Regions from separate parts of the Homo sapiens genome. Here regions 1, 2 and 3 are each linked to region 4. Evidence: fine-mapped expression QTL. A gene starts in region 4. Each other region holds a variant in brackets. All regions are shown on one strand. Distances are between the middles of the regions.

What was found. PIP is the estimated chance that this variant, and not a neighbour inherited with it, causes the effect.
Region 1: its variant is fine-mapped to the expression of STEAP2 in tibial nerve (GTEx, PIP 0.98).
Region 2: its variant is fine-mapped to the expression of STEAP2 in skin (TwinsUK, PIP 0.95).
Region 3: its variant is fine-mapped to the expression of STEAP2 in skeletal muscle (GTEx, PIP 0.98).

What each region holds. Positions count from the first base shown.
Region 1 is chr7:90,234,746-90,242,770 of GRCh38, forward strand. STEAP2 (STEAP2 metalloreductase) reads left to right here. Exons shown (of 6, transcript NM_001244944.2): 6 at 1-2,938. LOC107986819 (a long non-coding RNA gene) reads right to left here. Exons shown (of 2, transcript XR_007060423.1): 2 at 2,842-8,025. Among named protein-coding and RNA genes, the nearest start is that of CFAP69, 6.4 kb to the right of the region's middle. RefSeq lists a silencer at 1-20. The variant T/TCTG (reference allele first, on the strand shown) is at 3,387.
Region 2 is chr7:90,130,390-90,138,414 of GRCh38, forward strand. All of the region lies in intron 2 of STEAP2-AS1 (STEAP2 antisense RNA 1), which reads right to left. Among named protein-coding and RNA genes, the nearest start is that of STEAP1, 20 kb to the right of the region's middle. The variant CAG/C (reference allele first, on the strand shown) is at 4,527.
Region 3 is chr7:90,256,224-90,264,248 of GRCh38, forward strand. It overlaps CFAP69 (cilia and flagella associated protein 69), which reads left to right. Exons shown (of 23, transcript NM_001039706.3): 3 at 1,875-1,940; 4 at 5,724-5,833. Among named protein-coding and RNA genes, the nearest start is that of CFAP69, 15 kb to the left of the region's middle. The variant A/G (reference allele first, on the strand shown) is at 4,048.
Region 4 is chr7:90,207,961-90,215,985 of GRCh38, forward strand. STEAP2 (STEAP2 metalloreductase) reads left to right here and starts at 3,780. Exons shown (of 6, transcript NM_001244944.2): 1 at 3,780-4,085. It overlaps STEAP2-AS1 (STEAP2 antisense RNA 1), which reads right to left and starts at 3,675. Exons shown (of 3, transcript NR_110029.2): 1 at 3,340-3,675; 2 at 1,891-1,978. RefSeq lists a silencer at 3,883-3,942.

The DNA of each region.
Region 1 (8,025 bases), 27 kb after region 4:
AGTTTCACCGTGTTAGCCAGGATGGTCTCGATCTCCTGACCTCGTGATCCGCCCGCCTTGGCCTCCAAAGTGCTGGGATTACAGGTGTGAGCTACCGCGCCCGGCCTATTATCTTGTACTTTCTAACTGAGCCCTCTATTTTCTTTATTTTAATAATATTTCTCCCCACTTGAGAATCACTTGTTAGTTCTTGGTAGGAATTCAGTTGGGCAATGATAACTTTTATGGGCAAAAACATTCTATTATAGTGAACTAATGAAAATAACAGCGTATTTTCAATATTTTCTTATTCCTTAAATTCCACTCTTTTAACACTATGCTTAACCACTTAATGTGATGAAATATTCCTAAAAGTTAAATGACTATTAAAGCATATATTGTTGCATGTATATATTAAGTAGCCGATACTCTAAATAAAAATACCACTGTTACAGATAAATGGGGCCTTTAAAAATATGAAAAACAAACTTGTGAAAATGTATAAAAGATGCATCTGTTGTTTCAAATGGCACTATCTTCTTTTCAGTACTACAAAAACAGAATAATTTTGAAGTTTTAGAATAAATGTAATATATTTACTATAATTCTAAATGTTTAAATGCTTTTCTAAAAATGCAAAACTATGATGTTTAGTTGCTTTATTTTACCTCTATGTGATTATTTTTCTTAATTGTTATTTTTTATAATCATTATTTTTCTGAACCATTCTTCTGGCCTCAGAAGTAGGACTGAATTCTACTATTGCTAGGTGTGAGAAAGTGGTGGTGAGAACCTTAGAGCAGTGGAGATTTGCTACCTGGTCTGTGTTTTGAGAAGTGCCCCTTAGAAAGTTAAAAGAATGTAGAAAAGATACTCAGTCTTAATCCTATGCAAAAAAAAAAATCAAGTAATTGTTTTCCTATGAGGAAAATAACCATGAGCTGTATCATGCTACTTAGCTTTTATGTAAATATTTCTTATGTCTCCTCTATTAAGAGTATTTAAAATCATATTTAAATATGAATCTATTCATGCTAACATTATTTTTCAAAACATACATGGAAATTTAGCCCAGATTGTCTACATATAAGGTTTTTATTTGAATTGTAAAATATTTAAAAGTATGAATAAAATATATTTATAGGTATTTATCAGAGATGATTATTTTGTGCTACATACAGGTTGGCTAATGAGCTCTAGTGTTAAACTACCTGATTAATTTCTTATAAAGCAGCATAACCTTGGCTTGATTAAGGAATTCTACTTTCAAAAATTAATCTGATAATAGTAACAAGGTATATTATACTTTCATTACAATCAAATTATAGAAATTACTTGTGTAAAAGGGCTTCAAGAATATATCCAATTTTTAAATATTTTAATATATCTCCTATCTGATAACTTAATTCTTCTAAATTACCACTTGCCATTAAGCTATTTCATAATAAATTCTGTACAGTTTCCCCCCAAAAAAGAGATTTATTTATGAAATATTTAAAGTTTCTAATGTGGTATTTTAAATAAAGTATCATAAATGTAATAAGTAAATATTTATTTAGGAATACTGTGAACACTGAACTAATTATTCCTGTGTCAGTCTATGAAATCCCTGTTTTGAAATACGTAAACAGCCTAAAATGTGTTGAAATTATTTTGTAAATCCATGACTTAAAACAAGATACATACATAGTATAACACACCTCACAGTGTTAAGATTTATATTGTGAAATGAGACACCCTACCTTCAATTGTTCATCAGTGGGTAAAACAAATTCTGATGTACATTCAGGACAAATGATTAGCCCTAAATGAAACTGTAATAATTTCAGTGGAAACTCAATCTGTTTTTACCTTTAAACAGTGAATTTTACATGAATGAATGGGTTCTTCACTTTTTTTTTAGTATGAGAAAATTATACAGTGCTTAATTTTCAGAGATTCTTTCCATATGTTACTAAAAAATGTTTTGTTCAGCCTAACATACTGAGTTTTTTTTAACTTTCTAAATTATTGAATTTCCATCATGCATTCATCCAAAATTAAGGCAGACTGTTTGGATTCTTCCAGTGGCCAGATGAGCTAAATTAAATCACAAAAGCAGATGCTTTTGTATGATCTCCAAATTGCCAACTTTAAGGAAATATTCTCTTGAAATTGTCTTTAAAGATCTTTTGCAGCTTTGCAGATACCCAGACTGAGCTGGAACTGGAATTTGTCTTCCTATTGACTCTACTTCTTTAAAAGCGGCTGCCCATTACATTCCTCAGCTGTCCTTGCAGTTAGGTGTACATGTGACTGAGTGTTGGCCAGTGAGATGAAGTCTCCTCAAAGGAAGGCAGCATGTGTCCTTTTTCATCCCTTCATCTTGCTGCTGGGATTGTGGATATAACAGGAGCCCTGGCAGCTGTCTCCAGAGGATCAAAGCCACACCCAAAGAGTAAGGCAGATTAGAGACCAGAAAGACCTTGACTACTTCCCTACTTCCACTGCTTTTTCCTGCATTTAAGCCATTGTAAATCTGGGTGTGTTACATGAAGTGAAAATTAATTCTTTCTGCCCTTCAGTTCTTTATCCTGATACCATTTAACACTGTCTGAATTAACTAGACTGCAATAATTCTTTCTTTTGAAAGCTTTTAAAGGATAATGTGCAATTCACATTAAAATTGATTTTCCATTGTCAATTAGTTATACTCATTTTCCTGCCTTGATCTTTCATTAGATATTTTGTATCTGCTTGGAATATATTATCTTCTTTTTAACTGTGTAATTGGTAATTACTAAAACTCTGTAATCTCCAAAATATTGCTATCAAATTACACACCATGTTTTCTATCATTCTCATAGATCTGCCTTATAAACATTTAAATAAAAAGTACTATTTAATGATTTAACTTCTGTTTTGAAATGTTGTATACACGTGGATTTTTTTCTCATTAAATAATAATTCTAGTATTTGATGGAGGCCTTCTAATACTTTTCTGAGTTATTTCTTTTCAGAAGCATCCAGAAAGCAATACATGTGATAGTTATGGAGGGGTTTTGTTTGTTTTTACTAAAATAGTCATTTAGAAAAACCTCCATTTACATTTATTTTATTACATTATTTCATTTTACTAGCATTCATTAAGCATCTTTAAATCAGAACACACACAATATTCAAGCTATTCTGTAAACTCCCCGTAGCAGAAATTTTGTCTTATTTACTACTAAATCCCCAGTATCTAGTATAATGTGATCTATGATGGATACTAAAGAGATATTATAATAAATAATTACCCATTTTTACAGAAAATTATGTTTTTTATCATCCCGCATCCATGCAGCCATGCCTACATCCTCTTGCCTCTTCCTCATGCCTTGCCTCCTGGCCAGTGGCCTAGCGCTACCCTGTTGTCCTAAAGAGTT[T/TCTG]CTGCTGCTGCTGCCACTACCACCACCACCACACTGCTATATGTTGAGGAGTCCTGTACACTGTGCCACTGACAAGGAGTAACTGACCTTTGTGCCTGTGCACCAGATCTGTCTGTGGAGGTTCTGGCTTCCCCAGCTGCTGCCTGGAAATGCTTAGGTGCTAATATCCTGAGAGGAGGATTGTCAGGTAAAATACAGGACTCTCAGTTAAATTTGAATTGCAGACAAACAATAAATTACTTTTTATTATAAGCATGGGCTTTTTAAAATTTTTCTAAATCTGGCAACCCTACTTAAGGAGTGAACTTTGATCAAGGAGGTACAGCACAAAATGAAGCTAGTAGATAAATTCTCCCTTCCTTTCCCCCAGATAGGCTGTTCTAAAGTGCAATAATTCATAAGACCTTCATGAAAATATCCTCAAAGACCGAGCAATTAACTGCACTTGTTGCAAAGCTATGACAAGCTCACTAACACCTGTGTTTGTGTTCCCTTCTCCTACTGCCTCACTTCCATGTTTTTCCTCACTTCTGTTTCTCAGAGATAGTACTCCCCATAGAGTGGCAGCAGGTGAGTGTTGGTGTTGTTTGTTTATGGCAGGCTTGGGGAACCTAGACTAGTACAGTACTTTTGGTAGTGGATTCTTCTAATGGGAAGTGAAACAAGAGACAAATGATGACTTTGAGAAAGTCAGGCACGGGACCCTGCAGACTCAAAATCCAGATTTGTTGAGACCCCTGAGAGTAGAAAAACCCCTCAGGGGCAGATTCACATTGATCAAATGTACAGTCATACACTGTTAAATCAAAATAGTAACTCAGCACTACTGTGTGAAATATCAGTGTCCTGTAGGCGAGAATACCATTTGTGCCTTGATTAAACATACTTTATTCTTGAATCTGCTGTTTATAAGAATTGAAGTTATAATTCAAAAGATACTGGGATCTGTTATGGGCTGAACTGTGTTTCCTCAAAATTGATACATTGAAATCCTAACTCCCACACTACCTCAGAATGTATTTGGAGATAGGATCTTTAAAGAGGTAAAGTGAGGTCATACAGTTGGGCCCTAATCCAGTATGACTGGTGTCCTCATAAGAAGAGGAGATTAGGAATCAGGCATGCACAGAGGGAAGACCACGTGAAGTAAAAGGGAGAAGACGGCATGCCAAGGAGAGATGCCTCGAGATGAAACCAATCCTGCCAACACCTTAGTCTTCAACTTCTAGCCTCCAGAACTGTAACAAAATAAATTTCTGTTGTTAAAGCCACCCAGTCTGTGGTATTTGTTACAGCAGTCTTCAAAAACTAATACAAGGTTCATAGAATCAAAACAAGTCAATTTAGATATAGAACTCAAATAATTAATGTCATTGGAACAAACCTGTCTGATTAATCTTGCTCCACAACAAAGACAGTTCTATCCTGGGGTTATTGCACTATAACTACCCACCATTTAAACACAATAAATAGTTGTTCTAAAATCTCGGGAACATTTTTTTTTCATATAATTATTCCCATGTCATGGAACTGAAGCTTTGGGTAAAAGCGCTTTATAAATTCTTCTTTTAATTTTTTTTACTTTCAATTTGTTTACTTTTCCACTAAACACGAGTAGTTCCTGCAGCTTCCTACTTAAAAATCACTTGCAGTTTGGGTTATTGTTAGTATACTTTTCATTAGAATGGTTGTCTTCAGGGGTGACTATTCTTTTACTTTCGTTTTCTGTTCCACGTGCTTATTCTTCCCAAATGTACATTAATGATTCTGTTGGAAAGAGGTAATTACTTTTGTTTTGTTTTTAGGCTTTGTTTCTGTGCTGTCAACCTGAAAAAGTTTTTTAAAACAGTGAAGTATAGGCTGGGAGCGGTGGCTCACGCCTGTGATCCTAGCACTTTGGGAGGCCAAAGTGGGCAGATCGTTTGAACCCAGGAGTTCAAGACCAACCTGGGCAATATGGTGAAACCCCATCTCTACAAAAAACAACAAAAATTAGCCAGACACGGTGGCACACACTTGTAGTTCCAGCTGCTCGTGAGGCTAAGGTGGGAGGTGGGAGGATCACCTGAGCCCAGGGAGGTCAGGGCTGCAGTGAGCAGAGATCACGCCACTGCACCCCAGCCTGGGTGACAGAGTGAGACCCTGTCTCAAAAAAAAAAAAAATTAAGTATAATAAATTCTGGTTTTGTATGCATTTCTTCTCTTACAGAATTTCCCTAAAGCTAACCTACTAAAAACTATGACTAGATTTCATATGTGCTATAAACATTCTTTATTTAAAATAAATTACTCTAATTCAGAAAGGAATAACATTTGCTTGCACATTTAGAACATCTGGCATTAGAGACTATAAAATTCATATATAGTCTCAAATACTTATTAGACATATTCTTAATTCAAGAATATATAATTATTCATATGATTAGAAATAATTATAATTTTACTAAACATTGCTAATTAGGCAGAGTACAAACAAGAAAAAGTCAGAAGGAAAATAGAACCACAATTTGCAATATATTTATTTTAAAACATTTTTAGCTTTCTTTGTTACTTTTAAAAGTAAAACTTGTAAGTCAATATATTATTAAAACTACTAGTTAATCTTTAAGTCTACAGGTGCTACTAAGAAATTGCAATTTGTAACTTAACAGAGATATTAAATTCTGTAGAATTGTTACCACATTCAAGCATTTCTATTCTGTAGGTATAACTCATTTCCCATGTTTCTCTGCTATTTATCTTTTTGCTGAAATAATTTACTCCTTCAGTAGTCATTTCACCCTTTCACCCTTCTGTGTTTTTGTGTCATAACAGAAGAATCACTAAATAATGATTAAAATTAAGTCAACATACCAAATATAAAGTTAAAGCTTTTATGAAGCTTAATCTTTGTGCACTTACCAAGAAGAAAAGTAAACCCACTATTATTTGGGAACAAAGGACTTGGAAAATCCACGAATGGAATAATTAGTGAAAACCAGTTTTATGGATGCTGTTAAAACTACTCCAAAGCAATAATAATGACAACACACATAAACATACACACACACACACACACACTCACACACATGAGCAGTGCTTCTCAAATTTTGATGTGAGGCTGAGGATCTTGAGAGATCAGAATCTCAGAATGGAGATTCTGAGTCAGTAGGTCCACCAGGCGGCAAGAGAGTCTCCATTCCTAACAGAGTCCCTAGTAATGCCAGTGCAAGTAGCCCAAGGACCCCATTTTGAGTAGCAAGGACCTGGAGTATTTACCTTACTTTGGATAACTTACAAAATGCTTTAATTTGGCTTCAAATCAAAATAAAAAGTAATTTATAATCCTTGAAATCTTTTAATGAACATTTTTTGAGTGACTAGTATGATATGGACCAGGAAGTCCCAAAGTATGTTCTCCAGACCAATAGCATCAACATTGTTTGGGAACTGGTTAAAAGCACATATCCTTGGGCCTCACCCAGACTTACTGAAGCAGAGACTCTGCAGGTAGGGCTTGAGATTCTGTTTTAACTATTTCTCCAGACGATTCTGATACACATTAGGTTTTGAAAACTACTGCTCTAGACAGTATGCTGAGGGTCTGGGGTGCATATCAAAGTGACTCTCAAGAATCTCAGTACAGTAGGAAGGGGTCCAATTGCTGAACCAGTTGATACCATTAAGTATGTGATGAGTACAAAAACGGAATGACAGACAAGGTTGCACCCAACACAGCAAAGGATGTAAAGGTTTCCTAGAAAATGTCATGTTAACTGAATTTCATAGGGATTAGCCATCTGAAGACGGTGGCATGTACAACATAATGCAAATGTTATGCGGGAGGAAACCTGCTGGCACCTTTCGAAAACTGCAGTAATTCACCCAAGATGGCTGGCTGTGGGGTGTTTGAAGACTCCTCTACCCTTGTCCTTCTCACCTGTCCATGAGTAAAACAAATACCGTTAGAGCTAGAAAAAAAAAATTACAAAGCTGAGTCTATTAACTTGCCAAGCAAGAGAACTTACTCCATGAAGAATTTCACTGAGGAGGGAAAGTCAGGGGTTTTTAAATGTTAGAAGTGGGGAGCTTATGGGGCTTATGCTAATTAAGCATTGGAAACTGGCACTCTGGATATGGGGCAGAATGAATATATAGGTCTCTACACCATTGGTTAAATAAAATAAATATCCCATTGTTCACTAGTCAGGAAAGTCTCTTCAGTTAGGTCCAGTGAGGAAGGTGCCTGTCTAAGGTTACTGAGGCTTAAAGACCCTTATCAGCTTCAGCCTGTGCTGTTAAAATACAAGAGTCAGTTGATGTCTCCTAGGCAAGCTCTACTTTAAGTGGAAATTTTTCCTTTCCCCTCCCTCCTCTTCATCTTTCCTGATCCTGAGATGCTAGGATGACCACACAAAGGATATGCAAATAATCCAATTGTCAGCTCTCTGCCACCATCTTGGTTTGGGGTGCCATTCCACAGGATTCCATTGTATTCATCCAAGTAGTTTCAGTCTCCTTTCGATGTGGTTTACTTGGACTGTGTAACAGCAATTTAAGTCATATGAATAAAACACTTAACATGCTTTGCACTTTCCCTAGGTGGAAGCAACCTTAGACCTACTAAACTGCCCTCTAGATGTAATAAGGCCTAAGAATG
Region 2 (8,025 bases), 78 kb before region 4:
TTTATATTTGACTTAGAATAATTTTTTGAGGAGCTTTTGCAGCTACTGACTTCTTTAGTATGCTTGCCTGAGATTAAAATAGATATTGACTTACTTATTGTGCTTTTCTGAGGTTAAAATTCTTTCATATCCTTTGAGCACATATAGATAATGGCTTTTACTTTTAAAATTTTCTTCCAAGAGATACATATAACTCATATGTAAATATTGAGATTATTCAGATGAAGCTGCAAAGCCAGTTCACAGAATATACTGGATTGAATCATATCCAAGAACCTATGAATTTTATTTAAAAAGCACCTCAGCTATTGAAAAGAGCAAGACTGTTTACACAGCTTCATACAGACCTAAGAAATACAATGGAGATCATATACAAGAGTTATTTCTTTAACAAGGATGGTGTGGCAGCCACAAAATACACCACCTTTAGGGTATTCCTCTGAGAACCTGCTGTCCAGCTGCAGGGAGCACAGGTAACTGACAGCCTTCAACTGTAGCGCCATCAGCATCTGCATGGCATTCACTCTGGGTCACATTCTTCCTGGGTAACCCCCAGCCAATGACCGAGCAAGGAAGATATACTAGTCTGTTCTCACATTGCTATAAGGAAATACCCAAGACTGGGTAATTTACAAAGGTAAGAGGTTTAATTGACTCACAGTTCAGCATGGCTGGGGAGGCCTGAGGAAACTTACAATCATGGCAGAAGGTGAAGGAGAAGCAAGCCACCTTCTTCCCAAGGTGGCAGGAAGGAGAAATGAACACAGGAGAAACTACCAAACACTTACAAAATCATCAGCTCTCGTGAGAACTCACTACCACGAGAACAGCATGGGAGAAAACACCCCCATGATTCAATTACATCCACCTGGTCTCTCCCTTGACATGTGGGGATTATGGGGATTACAATTCAAGATGAGATTTTGGGTGGGGACAGAGCCAAACCAGATGAGAAGGGTACTGTAGGGCCTGGCTGTTTTGGCCCAATGCTGAACTGCTTCATCAGGCAATCTTTGCTCTGAAGCTGCTCACTGAGCAAGCCAAGCCCTGGTCAGCCGTCCTTTGCAACTGAAGGCTCTCCTGCTTTCTTCCTCTTTCATAGATGTCAACGGGCTGAAGGCTTTACCCACCCAATCCTGCTCCCCCTCCTCTAACAGCTATGACACCTTCCTAGTTTCACCCCTTCACCCATTCCAGTTTTACATAAGTTTTCCTCACTACACAGAGATGGTGCCACCAAGACCTTATTCATTTTACAACCTTACTGGGATCCCCTAATGAAATCCCTCTGAGACTATAGCACAGTAGACCCTGGCAGAAGACAGGACCCGGTACCTATAAGATGCCTTTCCTATCTCACGGATCCAGACCATTGTCAGATTTTAGAGTTCCTAGTATGGAGAAAAGTCCCTTGGGAACAGTAGAACCTGGACTGAACTCTTTTAAAATAAGTAGGAGGTAGGCGCCTGTGGTCCCAGCTACTCGGGAAGCTGAGGCAGAAGGATCGCTGGAGCCCAGGATGCAGAGAGACACGATGGCGCCACTGCACTGCAGCGTGGGCAACAGAGTAAGACTGTCTCAAGAGAAAAAAAAAAAAGTGACAGTGTGCAAAATGTTCATTTTATGTATACTTAGTGCCATGTGCTGACTATGAAATATGATAGCATTTGTCATGAAATTACAAAAAGTGTTAAGGTGCTAGTTTGCACGTTTTCATGGAAAATGGGAGAAAGCAAGAGAACTCAAGGACATGCACTACATTTGTTTTAGTTTTGTTTGAGTTGTGATTATCTCAGTGGCTCTTCTCTCCCTCACCCACCCACCTCTCCTATTTGTTCAATCTCTCTCCCTCGTCTGGTGCCTTAAAAGGGTCTCCATGCTTTGCATCCCTCCTCCACTCCACGATCAGGGACCCACCCGGCATCACACGTTCTGCTTCAGCAACAATGAACTGCTGGAAATTTCCAGCAACTCTTTTTCCTGCCAGTGCTCACACTGTACCCTTGCCTGTTAAGGTCTTACCTGTCTTCCTCGCACACCCCTGCCTCTCACCTGCTCAGAAGTCCCCTCCTGCCAGCAGCCAGTCCTGACCATCCCCTCTGTGATCTGCTAATGCCACTCCACCTGTCACATAGTTCGATCACTTAAAAATGATCTGTTTTCCTTTGAAGTCTTTCATTGAACTCTGAATTACTTAATAAAAAGGTTTGTATATTATTTATTCCTGTTTTCCACCCGACACAGTACCTGGAAGATAGTAGATGCTCAGCAAACATTGCACAAAAGAATAATGTGGAAAATAAATGGTTAAAACATAGAAAAATTTTAAAGATAGGGTATTTGGGTCACTTTTACTGTTTTCTGTCCCTACAATATGGCTGAATCATCCCCCATATGGCTCAACATTTTCTTAATTCTTTTAAAAGTACCCAACACTATATTGAGTGCTCTGGGGATCAAAATAATAGTATATATATTAAGGCTGGGTTTGAATCTCTGCTCTACCATTTACTAGCTGGGCAATTTATATAACATTTTAAAATTTCATCATCTGTAAAGTGGAAATATTAAAGGTATCTTCTTCAAAAGTGACATTTGGAAGAAAAAAATAAAGTAATACATATAAAGCATATGAGATTCAGTAAGCACTCGGTTAGTGGTGAGTTGTTTTTGTTGCTTTTGCTAAGACCCAGGAACCCATTGTTTGAAGATCAGCATAGAGCACTAACTTGTTGGATGGGATTTGTGTTCTCTACTCAATGATTTGTTTATTCTTTAGAGACTGTCTGTCCCCTCTAGAGTCTATTATTAATATTTTCTAATGCCAATTTATGGGAGTTTTACTATTGTGCTGTTTCTCTAATAATAGCTAATTTATATTTTTAATTTTTAAAAGCCATTATGCTGGAAACAGAGCATTCATACAAACAATACACGAATGAATGTAGGTTATACTGCAAAATAGCTGGTTACTATAATGTAGTTGTATTCCATGGCTTTAAGTTTAAAAATAACTTCGCATTTACTAGAGTGGACTTACCCTCCAGGCATAAAATTTTAAAACCCAACAACTCCAGGCCTCCAGAGTCTTTACTTCCCACTAACTTCTCACCAGTGAAGGCGAAGCTAATGAAAAAGGATAGATGACTGCTTCTCAATTGGAAATGGATCCAAATGCCATCAAGGGAATTGGTGTCGGTATACAGATTTTACCTACTGTCACAGCCTGGTTGGGTGGAGGATGGGGAAGGTGGTGGTATCGGTCTACTTTTAGAGTTTTAAATGTTTCTCTGAATTCCTGTAGCAGACAATTTTGAGAAAATTTTGCCTAGAGAAAGAGTCTGAAACCAAAAAGCTAAGCAGAGGCAAAGGTTTGCAGCTTGGATCTTTAACATTAATAAGTCTGTTGCTTTTTCCTACCTCCCACTCCTGCTACCTGAAGAAGGTGAGTAGGAGGGGAGGGATGGTGAAAGAGGAGGGATATGGAGGGAAAAGGACATAAGTGGTGGTTGGGTAGATGACAGATAGTGGTTGTCTGCCTGCCGCCCATCTAGGTATGCCCCCACGGGTGGCCTCTGCTTTTGCCCACAGGGGACTCATTCACGCACAAAGGAAGGTGACAGACAATTGGCCAGAACATAGAGCACTGAAATGAAACACAAAGGCCACTCTTGGGCCTCTGTGTTTCATCACAATTATATTAGTTTGCTAGGGCGCCATCACCAAGTACCACAGACAGGTGTCGGAGATCAAGGTATCTATCAGCAGGGTTAGTTTCTTCTGGGATCTTTCCTCTTGATTTGCAGATAAGCGTTTTCTCCCTGTGTCTTCACATGATGTTTCCTCTATGCCTGTTGTATCCTAACCTCCTTTTCATATAAATTCACAATTGAGCACATAACTCCTATTTAATACCATATGTTGGAATAAAAAGCCTTATAGCAATGCATAGGATAGAAATTCTTTTCTTTAAAACTTAGAGTATTTTGCAGTAATGAAAAATGGTCCTGACATACAGAATGCCATCTAGCTTACACCTGCATGGGGCATGCACGGCATGAGGCATGAAGAAGAAAGAGATGAGCAATCCTTACCTGAAAAGAGACCACCCTCTCCTTTAATGGGAGGAGAAATTAAAGAATAATTTAATGGGAGGGGAAATTAAAGAAAAATGCCCATAGTTTGCTGCAAACACTATTGCTCAATTTAATACTGTAATGGAATCTACAATGTGTGTACAATCATTGTTAACTATACCTTTATTATCTTTATAATGTTGAGGTAAAGAGCTTTCTGCTATTATGCATTAATAACTCCATCCCTAATGCCATCATGGTTCTAGTGTCCAGGGAAGGAGTCTGTATTAGTCTGTTTTCACACTGATATAAAGAATACCACCAGAGACTGGGTAATTTATAAAGAAAGGAGGTTTAATTGACTCACAGTTCTGCATGGCTGGGGGGGGCCTCAGGAAATTCACAATTATGGTGGAAGACAAGGCACATCTTACATAGCAGCAGGTGAGA[CAG/C]AGAGAGAGAGAGAGAGAGAGAGAACAAACCAGGAAGTGCCACACTTTAAAACCATCAGCTCTCATGAGAACTCACTCACTATCGTGAGAACAGCATGGGGGAAACCACCTCCATGATCCAATCACTTCCCACCAGGTTCCTCCCTTGACACCTGAGGATTACAATTTGAAATGAGATTTTGGTGGGGACACAGAGACAAACCATATTATTTCACCCCTGGCCCCTCCAAAATTTCATGTCCCTTTCAAGTTTCAAAACCAACCATTCCTTCCCAACAGTCTTAAAGTCTTAACTCATTCCAGTATCAACCTGAAAGTCCAAGTCCAGAGTCTCATCTAAGACAAGGCAAGTTCCTTCTACCTATGAGTCTGTAAAATAAAAAGCAAGTTAGTTACTTCCAAGATACAATAGGGGGCCAGGTGCAGTGGCTCACACCTGTAATCCCAGCACTTTGGGAGGCTAAGGCAGGTGGATCACCTGAGGTCAGGAGTTCAAGACTAGCCTACCCAACATGGTGAAACCCCATCTCTACTAAAGATACAAAAATTAGCTGGGTGTGGTGGCTGGCGCTTATAGTCCCAGCTACTTAGGAGGCTGAGGCAGGAGAACTGCTTGAATGTGGGAGTTAGAGGTTGCAGTGAACCGAGATCGCACCAGTGCACTCCAGCCTGGGTGACAGAGGGAGACTCCATCTCCAAAAGAAAAAAAAAAGATACAGTAGCAATACAGGCATTGGGTAAGTATTCCCATCCAAATAGGAGAAATTGGCCAAAACAAAGGGCCCACAGGCCACATGAAAATCTAAAACCCAGCCGGGCAGTCATTAAATCTTAAAGCTCCAAAATGATCTCCTTTGACTCCATGTCTCACACCCAGGGCATGCTGATGCAAGGCGTGGGTTCCCATGGCCTTGGGCAGCTCCACCCCTGTGGCTTAGCAGGGTACAGCCCCTCCAGCTGCTTTCATGGGATGGCAATGAATGTCTGTGGCTTTTTCAGGTGCAAGGTGCAAGCTGTTGGTGGATCTACCTTTCTGGGGTCTGGAGGATGGTAGCCCTTTTCTCACAGCTCCACAAGGCAGTACCTCAGTGGAGACTCTGTATGGGCACTCCAACCCCACATTTCCCTTCTGCACTGCCTAACAGAGGTTCTCAATAAGGGCTCCACCCCTCTTGCAGACTTCTGCCTGGACATCCAGGCTTTTCCACACATTCTCTGAAATCCAGATGGAGGTTCTGAAAGCTCAACTCTTGTATTCTGAATACTCACAGGCCAAACATCATGTGGAAGCTGCCAAGGTTTTGGGGCTTGCATTCTCTGAAGCAATGGTCTGAGCTGTACCTTGGCCCCTCTTAGCCACAGCTGGAGCTGGAGTGGCTGGGATGCAGGACACCATGTCCCAAGGCTGCACAGAGCAGCAGGGCCCAGGGCCCTGAGGACATTTTCCCTCTTAGGCCTTTGGGCCTGTGATGGGAGGGGCTACTTTGAAGATCTCTGAAAGGCCCTGGAGACATTTCCCCCATTGTCTTGGTGATTAACATTTGGCTCCTTGTTACTTATGCAAATTTCTGCAGCTGGCTTGAATTTCTTCCCAGAAAAATTTCTACCACATAGTCAGGCTGTACATTTTCCAAATCTTTATGCTCTGCTTCCCTTTTAAATATAAGTTCCAATTTCAAACCATCTCTTTGTGAGCGCATGTAACTGAACGCTTTCAGAATCAACCAGATTACCTCTTGAATGCTTTGCTGCTTAGAAATTTCTTCTGCCAGATACCCTAAATCATCTCTCTTAAGTTCAAAGTTCCACAGATCTCCGGAGCAGGTGAAAAATGCTGCCAGTCTCTTTGCTAAAGCATAGTAAGAGTGACCTTTACTCCAGCTCCCAATAGGTTCCTCATTTACATCTGAGACCATCTCAGCCTGGACTTCATTGTCTATATCACTATTAGCATTTTGGTCAAAACAATTCAACAAGTCTCTAGGAAGTTCCAAACTTTCATTTATCCTCTTGTCTTCATCTGAGCCTTCCAAACTGTTCCAACCTCTGCCTGTTATCCAGTTCCAAAGTTGCTTCCACATTCTCAAGTTATCTTTATAGCAGTACCACACTACCTTGGTACCAATTCTCTGTATTAGTCCGTTTTCACACTGCTATGAAGAATACCACCAGAGACTGAGTATTTATAAAGAAAGGAGGTTTAATTGACTCATAGTTCTGCATGGCTGGGGAGGCCTCAGGAAACTTACAATCATGGTAGAAGGTGAAGGGGAAGCAAGGCACATCTTACATGCGGCAGGCAACAGAGAGAGAGAGAGAGACTGCAAGAGAGAGAGAGAGAGAGAGACAGAAAGCAAGAGAGCGAGAGCGAGCATCAGGAAGTACCACACTTTAAAACCATCAGCTCTTGTGACAACTATCATGAGAATAGCATGGGGGAACCACCCCCAAGATCCAATCACCTCCCACCAGGTTCTTCCCTTGGCACCTGAGGATTACAATGCAAGATGAGATTTCAGTGGGGACACAAAGTCAAACCATATCAGAGTCTTCCTCTTAAAATTCATGGAAAGGTCATATCTATCTAATCTCTCTCTGATGCTTCTTTTGGCAGTATCACTAAAGACATTTCCATCCCAGAGAGTAGATGTGGAGGATGTCAGATTCAGAGAGAAAAAATTATTTGTCATTGGTTACAACCACAAAACCATTTACTATAGTTTTAATATTGTGAATATCTGTTCTGATCCCAACAGATCATCAGTCAAGTAGAGAAAAATAGAACAAACTATTTCTAGAGTGTCTAAAGGATTCATTCTATCATTTTAGTAGATGATATACATGACCATCAACATTCAGTCATTTCATGAATAAGACAAGACATTATAATTTACCTTAGAGTGAAGCTGTTCTCATAGAATTTACATTGTGCAATTTTGCTTTTTCACATGAATAAATTAGGGGCTCAGGAAGCAGAAGGACAAATAAGGCAGAGAACAAGCAGGAAAAATAATTGAGGTAGGACCAGTAATCCATGGAGGATCCCCAACTTCAGGTGAAAGCATAGAATATATCTGAATGTGAGAGTTGAGCCAAAGATAGACTCATTTATCCATGGACTAATGGATAGTCAAATACTAGTAAAAATAATAATAATAGCCATCATTTACAGGCTTACTCTTTGCTAGACTCTTTATATATTATATAATTTAATCTTTAGGACATCTTAGTAAAACTGTTCTGCAGATGAGAAAATTGGGTCTCAGAGATGTCAAGTGCCTTTCTTAAGGCCCTCCAACTAGACAGGGGCAAAGCTTTTAATTAGATTTGGGCCTGTCTAATCCATTGATACAATCAAACAAAACCACTGTGCCCTGGATGGAAGTCATTAATTTAAGGGCAAGTAGAACTGGACACCTAGAAACTAAGAGATCCAGGAGTTCTCATTGTATATTTGGGACTAGGTGGTAGAGGACATGAAGAACAAGGAATAGCTG
Region 3 (8,025 bases), 48 kb after region 4:
TCCAGGGACATGGATGAAGCTGGAAACCATAATTCTCAGCAAACTAACACAGGAACAGAAATCCAAACACTGCATGTTCTCACTGATAAGTGGGAGGTGAACAATGAGAACACATGGACACAGGGAGGGGAACGTCACATACCAGGGCCTGTCAGGGGATGGGGGACTATGGGAAGGATAGCATTAGGAGAAATACCTAATGTAGATGATGGGTTGATGGGTGCAGCAAACCACATGGCACGTGTATACCTATGTAACAAACCTTCACATTCTGCATGTGTATCCCAGAACTTAAAGTATAAAAAAAAAAAAAAAATTTTTAAGTAAGTGGGTTGACCATAGTATAGCCTATCAAAAGAAAACAATGTCCTATGAATAGGAGGCACAAAAATTTGGTCACTGTTTTAACATTTTTTATTCTCTGCTTTTTTACATATAAAGGAGAAAAAGTGACTATTGGAATAATTTATCTTTTTCTGGCTATCATTGTTGTGAAAAGTTATTTTTTATTGTGACTATATCTACATTTCCTTAAAAAACCACAACTGCATAGAGTGCCTATTAGCTGTTTAATAAGGCTACAGAGAAAAAGTATAGACAATATCACAGCTTTTCAGGAACATTTAAGATTAAAAGGACAGACAGAATTCAGTCATGGAAACACATCACTGTGTAGAAGTTTTACTTGCTTATTTTCATTTTTAATTGACTTAAGATGTTTGGCTTGCACAGAACACTGAGCATATTTTAGAAGTTAAAAATACAATCTCTACAGTCAGCTTTCCAAATTTGTCTTCTAACACCACCACTTTTTAGCTGTGTATTTTGGACACGTTACTTTAAAATGTTTCAGCTTGTGTTTCCTATTCTGGAAAACAGAGATCATAGTAGTATCTTCCTAATAGGGTCATTTTGGAAATTAATGAAGTGATATGTATATATGGTACCCATGTGGTACATGACGTAGAAAAAATATTCAATGTACTTTAGCTGTTGTTAATATTATTTCTGGAAACAATTACTGCTTTTATATTAACCTGGTTTTGATTCCCAATTTCCTAATCAAATTTAAATAATAGTTTATTTTTGATACATAATGTCTGTAAATGTTTATGGGGTACTTGTGATATTTTGTTACATGCATAAAATGTGTAATGATCAAGTCAGAGTATTTAGGCTATCTACCACCTCTAGCATTTATCATTTCTATGTGTTGGGAGCATTTCAAATCCCCTCTTCTAGCTAGTTTGAAATATACAATACATTGTTGTTGACTTTAGTCACCCTACTTTGCTAACAAATATTCACTAACACAGTCTTCCTATCTTTTGTAATTATCATTCTAGTCTATATCTCCATGAGAACAACTTTTTTAGCTTCCACACATGAGTGAAAATGTGTGATATTTGTCTTTCTAAACATGGCTTATTTCACTTAATATCTTCTAGTTCCATCCATGCTGCTACAAATGACAGAATTTCATTCTTTTTTATGGCTTAATAGGATTCCATTGTATATATAGACCATATTTTCTTTATCCATTCATCCATTGATGGACACTTAAGTTGATTCTGTATCTTTGCTATTGTGAGTAGTGCTGCAATAAACATGGAACTGTAGGTATCTCATTGATACACTGATTTCCTTTCCTTTGGATAAATACCCAGTAGTGAGATTGCTAGATCATACAGTCGTTCTGATAGTTTATTTTTACCTTCACTGTTTCAGAAAACATTTTATAACGTTTACATTATAATATAGTAATTTAAGAATTACTTGATAATTTTAAAGTGTCTACTTTTATGTTGAAGAATTTTTTAAAATCTCAACAGATTTAAAAGCACAAAAGAACTAAAATAGGTGATCTGTTTTAGGATGGCTTGGAAGAAAAACAACTTAAATTTGTCAAGAAACTGGTACAGTGTTATCAGAATGGACTTGTATCCTTTACATATATATGTATGTTCATTTCATTTATTCTGAAATGAGAATTTCTTTTAGAAAATGTGTTAGTTTTCCATTGCTGTTGTAACAAATTACCATAAATTTGATGGCTTAAAACAACATAAAGTTATTATCATACAGTTTTGGAGGTTAGAAGTCCAAAATCAGCCTCAGTGGACTAAAGTCAAGATGTTGACAGGGCTGGTTTCTCCTGAAGACTCTAGAAAGGAATCATTTCCTTGCCTTCCCCAGCTTCTGGAGGCTTCCTACATTCCTTGCCTCATGCCCTCTTCCCCCCACTGGCATCACTCTCACCTCTGCTGCTGTCGTCACATCATCTTCTCTGTCTGACCCTCCCTTCCTCCCTCTTTCCTTTATAAGGATCCCTGTGATTACGGTGGGCCCACCTGGATAATCTAGTATAATTTTCTCATCTCAAAATTCCTAATCATATGTGAAAAGTCCCTTTGCTATGTAACATAGTTACAGGTTCCAGGAATTAGGACATAGATATCTTGGGGAAGGCCATTAATCTGTCTACCACAGAAATACTGGAGAGGCCATTATTCTGTCTACCACAGAAAATATCTAACATTTTATGTTCTTTATAAGACTGTATTTTCTATCAGATAATGTAAATAAAATTGAAGAAACAATATAACACAAGTAACTGTGGATAATGTCAGTTTTTGTCGATTCAGAAAGACAATGGATGTAGTTAGAGGGCCAAGTCAAAGTCATTATTTCTATTAATTTACATGGGCAGTTGTACCTTTGATAAGCTCTCCACCCTTGTAAAGTAATAGAAGCTCATGAGGTTGTTAGCAAGATTAGATGAGATCATGTACATCCAAGTGCTTGATAATCTGCAAAATATTATATAAATATATTATCCCTACTAAATATACGACCCTGACCAGAATACATGAAAACCAGTGTGTCTTAAAACTATCTGTACGTAAAAGCCAGGTGTGATGGCTTACACCTATAATCCCAGCACTTTGGGAGGCCAAGACAGGAGGATTGCTTGAGGCTAGGAGTTCAAGACCAGACTGGTCAACATACCAAGACCCTGCCTCTACAAAAAAACAAATAGCCAGGTGTGGTGGTGTGTGCCCATATTCCTAGCTACTGGGAAGGCTAAGACAGGAGGATTGCTGAAACCCAGGAATTCAAGGTTACAGTGATCAAAGATTTTGACACTATACTCCAGTGTGAACAACTGAGTGAGACCCTGTCTCAAAAACAAACAAACAAACACTACCTTTGGATAAGAACCAGTTTGTTTTGTTTTGTTTTGGGGTGTTTGTTTGTTTGTTTGTTTGTTTGTTTTTGACACAGAGTCTCCATCCAGCCTTAGTTGCCCAGACTGGAGTATAGCGGGGCAGTCATAGCTCACTGCAACTTCAAACTCCTGGGCTTAAGCGATCCTCTCACCTCAGCCTCCCAAGTAGCTGGGACTACAGGAATGCACCCACCACACCCAGTTAATTCTTTATTTTTTTGTGGAGTCTCATTATGTTGTCCAGGTTGGTCTCAAATTCCTCAGCTGAAACAATCCTCTCGCCTCGGCCTCCCAAAGTGCTGGGATTACAGGTGTGAGCCACCACAGCTGGCCATTTTTTTTTAACATTTACATATATATGCTATTGTAAAATACAATAAAAGTATCCCACAAATATTAGATTGTTATAAAAGTTTTTATATGTCCACTCTCACTTTATGTATTCATTTTGTCACAGACTAGTAAATATACTTCCAGAACTGACAGTGGTCCATAGACCACACTTTGAATAGTATTCATCTAAATCAAGCTTGTCCAACCCTCAACCTGTGGGCTGCATGCTGCCCAGGATGGCTTGGAATGCAGCCCAACACAAATTTGTAAACTCCTTACAACATTATGATTTTTTTGATAATTTTTTTTAGTTCATCAGCTATCATTAGTGTTTGAGTATTTTATGTGTGACCCAAGACAATTCTTCTTCTTCCAGTGTGGGCCAGGGAATCCAAAAGACTGAACACCCTGAAAATGATCTTGAACAGTTGTCTGACTTGGTCTAAAGAAGTTATCAAGCCCGTGCATTGTGGCTCATGCCTGTA[A/G]TCTCAGCACCCTAGGAGTCTGAGGCAGGAGGATCATTTGAGGCCAGGAGTTTGAAACCAGCCTGGGCAACATAGCAAGACCCCATCTCTAAAAAAAAAAATAGCCATGTATGGCGATGCACACCTGTAGTTTTATCTTCTCCAGAGGCTGAGGCTGAGGTGGAAGGGTCGTTTGAGCCCAGAAATTCGAGGCTGCAGTGAGCTATGTTTGTGCCACTGTACTCCAACCTGGGTATGGGTGACTGAGTGAGATCCTGTCTCTAAAAAAAAGAAAAAAAGAAAAGTTATCAAGCTCTAATATTAGCTCATTCCAGTTCAAAACCTCTTAAGACTTCCATTCAGGAAAATGTTTCTTATAATTTAATCTAAATCTTTTATTATGTTTTAGCCTTGGTTTTATTTGGACCTGTTCCATCTTAGGGCTTGTGTATATCAAGCCCTATTTACTGGTAGCTGAAAATGTCTACTAGCAGGGATTTCTTTTCCTATTTTAACCTGACATCTCAACACCTCCATTTTTTTTTTCTTCATGTTAAACCGTTGGTGGCAATTGGCTCTATTTCTAAATCCCTCTCATAGGCTGGCTATAGAAGTTGTAAAACTTAGCAAAGTTAGAGAAGTATCTTGGTCACTTCTCTAGGAAGTTAACAGAGCTTTCTATTTCCAGTGTACCCTGCTCTCCCATCTTTTCCTAAAAGGTCCTAGAAAAAGGCTAGGAGTAATAAGATTCAACCAAGAAGTGTAAGTCACATCTACCATAATTTCTTAGCTGTAAAACAAAATCAATGAAATGTGTTTATGTGCCAATAGGATTTTTTTTTTTTTTTGAGACAGAATCTCACTGTGTCACTCAGGCTGCAGTGCAATGGCATGATCTCAGCTCACTGCAATCTCCGCCTCCCGGCTTCAAGCGATTCTCCTGCCTCAGCCTCCTGAATAGCTGGGATTACAGGCACCACCACGCCCAGCGAATTTTGTATTTTTAGTAGAGACGGGGTTTTACCATGTTGGTCAGGCTGGTCTCGAACTCCTGACCTCGTGATCCACCTGCCTCGGACTCCCAAAGTGCTGGGATTACAGGCGTGAGCCAGCAGGATTTTTAAATAGATAAAATAAAAGATGCTTTTATCTGAATATCTAGAAAGTCCATATTTTGCTTTCATATTAGTTTCAGATAAAATCCTAACCAATTTAAGCCTTAAACACAGGAAAATGCATCTCAGTTTAATATTAATAAAATAGTGGAGTAAAGTAATGTTTAGGTTGCTTATTCTGAGACAGCATATGTTTGTGTGGGCAGGGGTAGGGGGTGAAGATGAAGGGTATAATTGAGCCTAATCAGTAAGTTAATGTTTTCAATGTGCTATTACTCATTGCCAGTGGGAAGTTATTGATCAACTGAATCTGTGTTGTAGCAGTTGGTAATCCAATTCTAAAGTTGTGAGAGGAAAAAAATTTTGAGTAGGCATTTACTGAGGCAAAAATGAAATGGTTTTTTTAAAAATATGGTTCTAAATTTCCTTTTTTAGACTTCAAAATAAGAATAATTAAAACAGTATCTACCACATTTGGCAAAATAGTTGGAATTCTATAGACTTTCTTCACAGAAATACTATAAAGAATATGTTAATAAAGATATTAATCTGAATTTTATTTCTTAACTAAAAATATTAAAGCCATTAAGGGATTTAGCACAGATATTTAAAATTCTGAATCTGTGTTCAGGAAAAATAAAAAACCAGCCTCGTTTTATAGAATCTGCATATGATATCATAAAACTGTGTGGGTAAGTTATCTTTCTTTAACTTTATTTTGTAGTAACATGGAGTATTTTATTATGTTTCTTATATCACAAACATACTATGCATTATAGTGTAGCAGATTGCTACAGAACTCAGAAAACTTCAGTTCATCACTTGATTCCAGCAGTTGGCATTTCAGGTAATCAGTTTGCTGTGGTCTGAGATTGCTAGCCACAAGAGATTAAATTCTAAGTATATTGAAATGCTTTCTTGTAATTAGTTACTCTGAAGTAAATGCTAAATATTAGATGTAACCAAGGAATTATAGTATTTTCAGAAAATCTTTGAGTGAACTTATGGATATGCTTATAATTTCAGTCTAGTTTTTTTCTCTGTCTTTAGAAAATTTGAGTCTCAAAGATATATTAGGTTATATATGTCATGTTTTATTTGATTTTTGAAATTTGAGTGAAGAATAAAAATCACCAATTACATTTGATATATATTTTAAAAATGTAAGTTAGAGATAAGAATTGTAAAATTAACATGTCTTATTCTTTCTACTGTTGGTTCTCTAACAAGTTCTGGGAACTGAGTATATGGTGCTTCCTTGGTGCCACATAGTGGCTAATCTAGGTATATATTAAAATATCCATTTTTAGTTGCTAAATGTAATGTAGTAGGGAGGAATAAACCTTTTGGACAATTTTACCTTCTGAACCTTTCTACCAATTTAACTTTTTAGATAGCAATTATTTATTTTAATATACAAATAATATATAAATAATAGAAAGGTTTAGTAGAATTATGCATACATGATAGGTTCTAACTCTCACTTTTAGATTTACTAGCAATATTTAATATGTAACCACTTAAATTTGTATTTTCTGATATCTGAATAAAATAACCAAAATAATATATTGAATGCCTATACCATGCCTTGCTTTTTAATAGACAGGTACAATGGAAAATAAATGGTTGCTCTGGTGTTTTCAAGGAACAAATTGGAAATTATTATTATATTGACATACGATTATATAATGTAAAACTTTTAAATCTCAAGGCTTTGCAAATCCTAGAATGCCAAGTTTATAAGAATTGCTTTCAACATCTATGCTCCTACAGAGCTCTGCACAAAGTTCATTGTCTATGAAAACTTGTGACTGAATGTTTAATTGTATAATATGATAAATCCTTTTTAGCTGCAGTCTTCATTTTCCCTCATATTTCATAATTATTCACATTGTTAATTTTTTCTACTTTTCTAATTTCAGCTTATGTCTAGATAACTTCTCTATGCCTCACCCTCACTTGTTTCTCTTTTCAAGACATTTTTGGAAGATAAAAACAATAAAAATAGAATAATAATGTCAAGCCTTTCCGTTTTGGCCTCCAAGTAGTATGGTTTTCTCATGGCATTAGAAGTATAATGCTAATTTTTTCATAAACTTTTTGGTTGAAAACTCTTCTGATGCTTTATCTTATAGATTGTGTCCTTTGCTAGAAAAGGAAAAAGTTTGGGAACAAAAAGTACTAGTTTTAGAGTCCTTCACTTTAGAGATCCAAAAAGCAGCTGGATAACAAATATAATACATTATTTGTTTCAAATGACAAATTCTGACAAACACTAGAAATGAACTTCTGTGGCATTTATAAAATTGTCCTTTTTGTAGCTTGCTCTTCAGATATCTTTAAATTCAAATTGGCCTGTATATTGCTATTGATACATCCTCATGTGATAGTTCTCAATACCATTTTCAACTACTTCTTTAATTTTTCTTGAAAAATATGAATTGGCCAAGCGCGGTGGCTCATACCTGTTAATCCCAGCACTTTGGGAGGCCGAGGCAGGCAGATCACGAGGTCAGGAGATGGAGACCATCCTGGATAACACGGTGAAACCCCATCTCTATTAAAAATGCAAAAAAAATAGCTGGGCGTGGTGGCAGGCACCTGTAGTCCCAGCTACTCGGGAGGCTGAGGCAGGAGAATGGCGTGAACCCAGAAGGCAGAGTTTGCAGTGAGCTGAGATCGTGCCACTGCACTCCAGCCTGGGCGACAGAGCAAGACTCCATCTCGAAAAAAAAAAAAAATATATATATATATATATATATATATATATATATATATATATATATGAATTAAAAGTCCTGTCTCTATAGGATATATTGTACTTTAAATAGTACAGGAGGTTCAAATTTTGAACTCATGAAATGTCAAGATAGTTTATATATTT
Region 4 (8,025 bases):
TTGTTCAAGGAGGTTAAAGCAGTGTTACTTATAATAGTTAAAGAATCAGAAAATGTACTTTCCTAAAATTTAGGGTTAAGAAAACTATTCTAGGCCAAACACAGTGGCTCACACATGTAATCCCAGCACACTGTGAGAGGGATGGGTGATGTGGGAAGATCACTTGAGCCTAGGCATTTAAGACCAGCCTGGGCAACCTAGGGAGATCCCCTCTCTACAAGTAATAAATAATTAGCTGGGTGTGGTGGCGTGTGCCTGCCTGTAGTCCAGCTTCTGGGAGGCTGAGGCAGGAGACTCACTTGAGCTCAGGAGGTTGAGGCTGCAGTGAGCCTTGACCATGCCACTGCACTCTAGCCTGGATTACAGATTCAGACCCTGAAAAAAAAGAGAAAGGAAGGAAGGAAGGAAGGAAGGAAGGGAGGGAGGGAGGGAGGGAGGGAGGGAGGGAGGGAGGGAAGGAAGGAAGGAAGGAAGGAAGGAAGGAAGGAAGGAAGGAAGGAAGGAAGGAAGGAAGGAAGGAAAAACTAGTCTATACCAATATATAAACTATATAGCCATTAAGAATTATAAGACTTTAGAACATGTTGATCTCTGGAAATATGTTTATGAAATAATGTTAATTATAAATATGTGTTTTGTACAGATGTACATTCAAGCATTTTAATAGATTTATAAATCCTTGTGTATCATTTTGTGTTCAAACACAGCGTATTTCTTTTTTTAATCATACTTAAACAATTTATTTTTTATTTCAATAGTTTCTGAGGAACAGGTGGCTTTTTGTGACATGAACAAATTCTTTTGCAGTAATTTCTGAGATTTTGGTGTACCCATCACCAGAGCAGTGTACACTGTACTCAATACGTAGTATTTTACCCCTCACCCCACTTCCCCCTGGAGCCCCCAGACTCCACTATATCATTCTGATGCCTTTGTGTCCTCATAGCTTAGCTCCAGCTTATGAATGAGAACATATGTTTGGTTTTCCACTCTGAGTTATTTCACTTAGAATAATCATCTCTAATTCCATCCAGGTTGCTGAGAATGCCATTATTTTGTTCCTTTTTATGGCTGAGTAGTATTCTGTGGTATATATATACTATATTTTCTTTATCCACTCGTTGGTTGATGGACATTTAGGCTGGTTCCATATTTTTTGCAATTGTGAATTGCGCTGGTATAAACATGTGCAAACACAGTCTACTTCAGATTATATTTACATGTATAAATCTATTGATGTATATTAATGTACATTGACAAATAAATGTAAGGTGATGTTAACAGAATTTCATGTTTATTGAATTCTTTGGTTTTAAAACAAAGCAGCATTTCACAAAAATTATTCTATTTTATTATAAGCACTGCTTACAAACAAATTTGTTCAAAACAAATTTGGGGGTTTGGGGAATAGGTTAGGTAAAATGTTTTTACCATAGGAATTTTCAGAGCCTTTAATTTATTAACATACATTGTGGATCTCTAAAATGAAGAGATTTCTCTTATTGTTTATCTCAAAATCTACTATTTACATCACGACTTACATTTATTTTGTGTAAATAAATCTGCATAAATCTTATTTGCACTTGTTACTAATTTATCGTTTTCACCAAACTGTAACTTCTATCAGGACAGGTAAATATATCTGTCTTCTTCACCACTGTTCCTAGAGTGCCAGCCAGGGCATATAGAAGTGGCTCAATATTTTTGAAGTGAATGACTTGCTAGAGCAGCATTTAGGCAAACTAGTGCCTAAAGTCACACATTTTGGGAACTACCACTCTAAAGTTATTTAATTGTATAATAACTTCAAAGGAAAAAAATGTGTTAATGCCCCTAGGCCACTAGAGATCCATTTAATAATTATTGCTTCGCTTCAGTTGAGTCACTTACTACTTTAGGGAACAGAAGAGATTTCTCAGAGAGCACCTCATGACCTGGAAAAGTCTTGCAAAATCATTTTCATACTCTGCATCTCCAGCTGAAAAACAATGATAAAATTAGTTACCATGGAAGTTAAAGGAATCATGCTTTGCATTAACACCAACAGTCTTCTGGAACACATTTGGTAACATTAGATTTCCCATCAAAGATATTTGTTTATTTTAATAGTTCAAGCATGAAAAAGAGATATCCCTTTTGGAAGCTGCAAATTGTTGACTCACTGATTCTCATTTAGGAAAAGGGATTTCACATTACTTTATCTATTTTCTCAATAGTCAAAGCCCATGTTAAGAGAGCTTTTAAACATATTTAAAATATATGGCTTACCTACATGTTTTACATGATAATTTATGGTTATAGAAGTTAGAAAGTGCAATTTCTTTTAATATCCCCGTGGGGAAGTTATATAATTCTATAGTTTTTTAAAATATATGGAAAAGCAATATACTTTCCGTTAACTGCTAAGATTCATGAATTTTCTCCACAAGTTCTCCAGAGGAACTACTAGAAAAAACTCCACGAATCTCATTATTTGACAGTTTTGTTGAAGTGAAATTATTAAAATTGATATTAGATTTAATGACTTGTTTCCAGTAACCAAAATGGAAAGTATTCTACCAGCTGTCGATGGTTCCACACCCTGACACATCGTTAAAACCTTAGCTTCTGCCTAAACTTTAAACCTTAATAATATTTGGCGGTAGGGGAGGGGTTACATTTCAAGTCAAACAAAGGATGTATTTCCAAAGCAGCATTTACAAAGGTTAATCTGTGTATGGACTACAAAGGGGAAAGTGCAGTGCCCCAGTGATCGATCTAAGACCCCCCTCTCGTTGTTGTTGTTGTTGGGTTTTTTTGGTCTGGTTAATAAACCACCTAGAGGGATAATTTTTAAACTTAATTTGTTGAAATGGTACTTTACTAATGTATGAAAAAAATTTCCCCAAATTTGAGAATTTTTGGTAAGTTGATTTTATATTTGGGAATAAAGATCTCTTGCTTCTTCTACTGACACCTTCTACACAAAAGATAAAAGGTACTTTTACTTGGTAATCCGCAGGGAGAAAATTTACAGAAACCCAGAGCCAAAGGTGCTCTCAGGGGATCCCCTGAAACATTCAAAGCCATTGCGGCCCCAGAAGGTAAATGGCTTTCGCAGGAACACAGGTCTCCTGACTCACGGCCTAACCTTCCTTTCCCCCACACCAAAGCTCGCGCGGCACCAGCTAGAGTGAAGGTCAAAGTCAACAGAATAATCTCTGCAGTCCAGGGTCTGTGAGGGTCCTCCTATCCGAGGGAGTTTTCATGAAAGGGCATTTCCGAACATTTTATTCCAAGGACACAGTCTAGTCAAAAGACGTTTGGGATAGGGTAAACATGAGGCAAAAGAACACTTACAAAAGAAAAAAGCGCAGTTTCTTGGAGGCTTGTCAGAAGCTAAGACTGGGGAGATGAGAACCAGGGCCCTTGGCGAGAGTTGGGGTGGGAATCGCGTAAGAAAAGCAATTTCTAGAGCGGAAAGGTGACCCCACATTACAAAAAGAAATGGAGTAGAAAAATAGGCTTGACTATTCTAAAGCTGCTTCAGAAAGAATCTCCGGAAGACCACGGAGGAACCCCGCAGGGGAGCCAGGCGGATACTCAGCCGCTCGCGGTAGAAGGGCGCGCAAAGCTGCGGAGCCGCGTGTGTGGAGCTCCCCAGTGCACTCACTGCTGGCTCCCCCTCGGTGCTCTGGGCCCTTCCCAGCTCCCTCCACACAGCCCGGCTCCCTTCACACACCCCCGCCCCCTCCGAGCTCCCCGACTCCTCCCCGCGCTCCACGGCTCTTCCCGACTCCAGTCAGCGTTCCTCGGGCCCTCGGCGCCACGAGCTGTCCGGGCACGCAGCCCCTAGCGGCGCGTCGCTGCCAAGCCGGCCTCCGCGCGCCTCCCTCCTTCCTTCTCCCCTGGCTGTTCGCGATCCAGCTTGGGTAGGCGGGGAAGCAGCTGGAGTGCGACCGCCGCGGCAGCCACCCTGCAACCGCCAGTCGGAGGTGCAGTCCGTAGGCCCTGGCCCCCGGGTGGGCCCTTGGGGAGTCGGCGCCGCTCCCGGGGAGCTGCAAGGCTCGCCCCTGCCCGGCGTGGAGGGCGCGGGGGGCGCGGAGGTGAGCGGGTCGGGGAGGAGCGCGAAAGAAGGTAGCGGCGGCGGAGTTGAGGGTCAAGATGCAGTCTGCGCCACGCGCTGCATCCATCCTCCCCGATTCTGCGCCCTCACCGGGCGTCCGCCCTGAGCTGCGGGGTCCCTCATCTCCTGGCACCTTAAGGTGGAAAGTGAGAAGGGTGGAGAAGGGTGTCTGTTCCACTGATTCCCCCTCCTCCTCCTCTTGGTTCCTAGAGCTAAGGGCAAGTCCTGAGGTTGGGCCCAGGAGAAAGAAGGCAAGGAGACATTGTCCCAGGTAGGATGTGTCCCAGCAGGAAAGGACAGGCAGGTTACTTTCGCCCCCTTGATAGTCTCCCTGCTACTTTGGGTTGATGCAGGGCATTTCATGGAAGATCATGCAGTGCTGCTTTGCGAACAGGTATTTCTAGCAGTCATTTGGTTTATTTCCCAGTAATGTAATCGTGGTGTTTAGGCCATTTCTGTTAGAAAGTAATTGGCCTCTTCTTTGACTGTCCTAAATTATCTTTGAACCCTGTGTTCAGCCTCAGCCAAAACTTGTTGAAAATTATGCCCTAAAAATCTTGCTCTTAAAATAGAGCAGAGAGATAAAGAGCATTTTTGTTGGAAGATTTCCATTTATTATCTCTCCCACCCCGTGGAGAAGGATTGGTGTCAGTTTTTACTCCTCGGGCAGTTAGTTTTTTAGATGGAAAGACAGTCCAGGCCATAGTTAATTATCGCTCATCAGTATAGGAGAAAAAGAATTCAGACTCCTGCCCCACCCCCACCCCCACCCCCAACCTCCTGACTTAGATTCTGGTCCTTTTAACAGCCCCGCTGCTTGGAACCCTTTTTGTTTTCTAAACCACCTCCCCATCCTTCCTTTTCTCCACTTTATTATTTCTTCATTTTATTGATCTGTTTATTTTTTCTTTCTTTAACCCTATAATTTTTTTACTCCGATTCTCTCTTGGTTGCTTCAAAGCTTAGAGGCTATTTAATGGAAAAGCAAAACAAAACAAAACAAAACACCCGTCCTAAATAATTTGCAGGATGTTTAGAAACATAAAGAGTAACTATGTGTGCTGCCATTGGGATGGCTGCACTCTCTGCCTCTTAGCTAGTCACTCTGTCAGGGTATGGGGAAATGAGACAATATTGAGAATGACAACTTGAGCAAATTGTGCAGTAAGGAAATGAAAAGCTTTATCCAAGTCACTTTTTATTGTACTGGTGCTATGGAAAATGTGGTGAATGAACATAGTTGTATTTTAGTACTGAAAAAACAGGACAGGTGAAGACAAATTTTTAAAGAAAGGATTGTAAATGAGTTAGAAAAGTGAGAAAGAAGATACACCAAAAATGTGAAAGAGTAAGACTGCAGGCGTGATAAAGGACATAGGACATCAGGAGATGTATTTATCCCTGCTGGGCCAGAAACCAGGACATTGAGGTAACTGAGACATTAACATAACAATAACATTGATAAATCACCTACCCCTTAAGGGCCCACATGTGTTTTCAGCAAAAAGAGAAATCTGATCTAGAGAATTATTACATGTCTTTTTGTCCTGAATTTTTTTGATGTATTCCATAACAAAGAATTTTTATTGCATCCTTAGTTACACTGCCAGCCAATGTGGAGGCAGTGATCACGGACAAGACAAACATGGTTCTTCCCTCGTGCAGTTTATTGTCCAATGGGGGAAATAGTAAACAGTAAAGAAACAATTATATAAAATATTACAAAATAAATTTAACAAGGGCTGAGTGAATTATTCTGCTATAGAGATGGAACAGTATATGGAAAGCTCCCAAGGTACATAAAGTGGTTGTTGTTTTCTCTTTCTAGAAGAGAATGCTGTGGGTGGACAATATACAGATAAGGTTAGAGAGGGGAAGCGGGGACTAACTCATTCAGGACCTTTTACGTGATAGTCAGGAAGATGGCTGTAGTTCTAAGTACAAGGAGCACCGATTTTAAGGAGAGACATTTTATGACGATTTACATTTTAAGATGATTTTAGCTGCTGTGGAGATGTTTGGAAAGGGTCAAAAGAGAAAGTAGGCTGACCCATTAGGAAATGTTTGCAGAGTTCAGGTGAGATGATAGACACCTGGACTAGCCTGGTATTGGTGGAGAGGGATTTATGAAATATGTTGGAGAACAGGAATTGGTGCAGGATTTTATGTCAAAAGTGAGGGTCAGCAAGGACTTAAGAATGACTCCCAATTTTCTGATTGGAGCAACTGGTGGATAATGGTGGCATTTACACATTTCCAGGCGAATGGGACCAGCTCTGGGTGGAAAAAGTTCAGGTTTGAACCTGTGAAGTTTGAGATGTCACAGAAAGAGGTCATAACCATATCCCCTTGGGAAGCAAAAAGGGAGGCTCTCCAGGACATAAGTGGATAGACTGGTCTTTGATAGGTAAAATTGGTGATTGTTAATTTAAGGTGAAACTAATGAGCTCAGTTTTCTGGTTTTTCTCCAGCAACCTTCACCAACGTGGATACAGATACAGAGAAAATGGATAGCTGGGTCCAGGACTAGAGTTTTGCCAAGCAGATATGATGGAGAGTAAGAGAGCTGAGGATCTTTTTAAGGGAGTGACTACAAATCTAGCCTCGGTTTAAAGAGAAACCAGAGCAGGCTGAAGGAGAGTGCAGGATATTAAGCAATTAGAGAGGTAGAGGTCAACGGATCAGATTTCTTTTGCTGTTTAGAATTATCAGTGTGAATATTTAAACTAAGATTATTGGAAGTCCTGGAGACAGTGCTTGGAGATTTCAGGCAGTGAGTGACTGAGGTGGGGTAGAGGCAAAAATTCATTGTCTCCAATGAGTAAGTCAAGGAAATAAGAGCCCCTGAAGTTGAATGGTTCATCCACTTGAATGATAAAGTCCAGGAAAAACATGATAGCTATTAGGGTAGAGAGGATGACCATGTATATACTGGGAGCCAGAGTCTGCAGTCATAAGGAATAAACTAGAAGTCAGTAGAGGACAGCAGTGAGGACAGCAGTAAGGACAGGGAGAGGGTATGGTGAAGTACCATGAGCTTCAAAGGAGCTGGGTGTTTGCAGGAGAGACAATGAAGAAGAGATGTTCAGATGTGGGCTTACAAAGTGAAGATTACACCACCCCACCTCATGGCCCTGGAGAATTATGTTTTCTTGATAGCCTCTCCAAATCTGCAGGTTGTGAAATGTCATCAAAACCTCTGTGGACAGCCCTTTCAGAGTTGCTGTCATCCAATAATAAATGCCCTATTTATGTGTGAAACAAATTAGGTTCTATTTTTCAAAAGTAACATAGCACAACAGGTGCCATTCAGCTTCAGGAATGTTCAGGAAATCCTTCTAAACTGAAAACCTTAAGAGGCTGTCCAGCTGAATGTAACTGAATTCCCTATCAAAATAATACATTCTCAAGTATTAAATGTGTACAGCAAGTCAAATGCCCATTCAAGAAAACGATGTCATTGACACAGACTTTTAGATTGAGCTCCCGAAGTTGAAGTGTTAAATATAGGGTGGTGATATTACCATTATTACACAGCTTCAAGACTTATTTAGTGTTGGAAACTACCACCAGAGTCAAGTATAACCTATTTGTTTGCTGTTTAACAAAGGAAATTGAGACTCAGAGAATCAAAGTGATTGCAGAAGCTTAGGCCTGCTCTTTCACCCCTACACTATGAAGACAAAACTTTCTATAAATGACATAGTTGTTTTTTGTTTTTGTTTGTTTTTGTTTTTGTTTTGAGGCTGAGTCTCACTCTGTTGCCCAGGCTGGAGTCCAGTGGCGCGATCTTGGCTCCCTGGTTCAAGCGATTCTCCTTCCTCAGCCTCCCAAGTAGCTGGGATTACAGGCACCTGCCACCACCCCTGCCTAATTTTTGTGCCTTTTTAGTAAAGATGGGGTTTAATCATGTTGGCCAG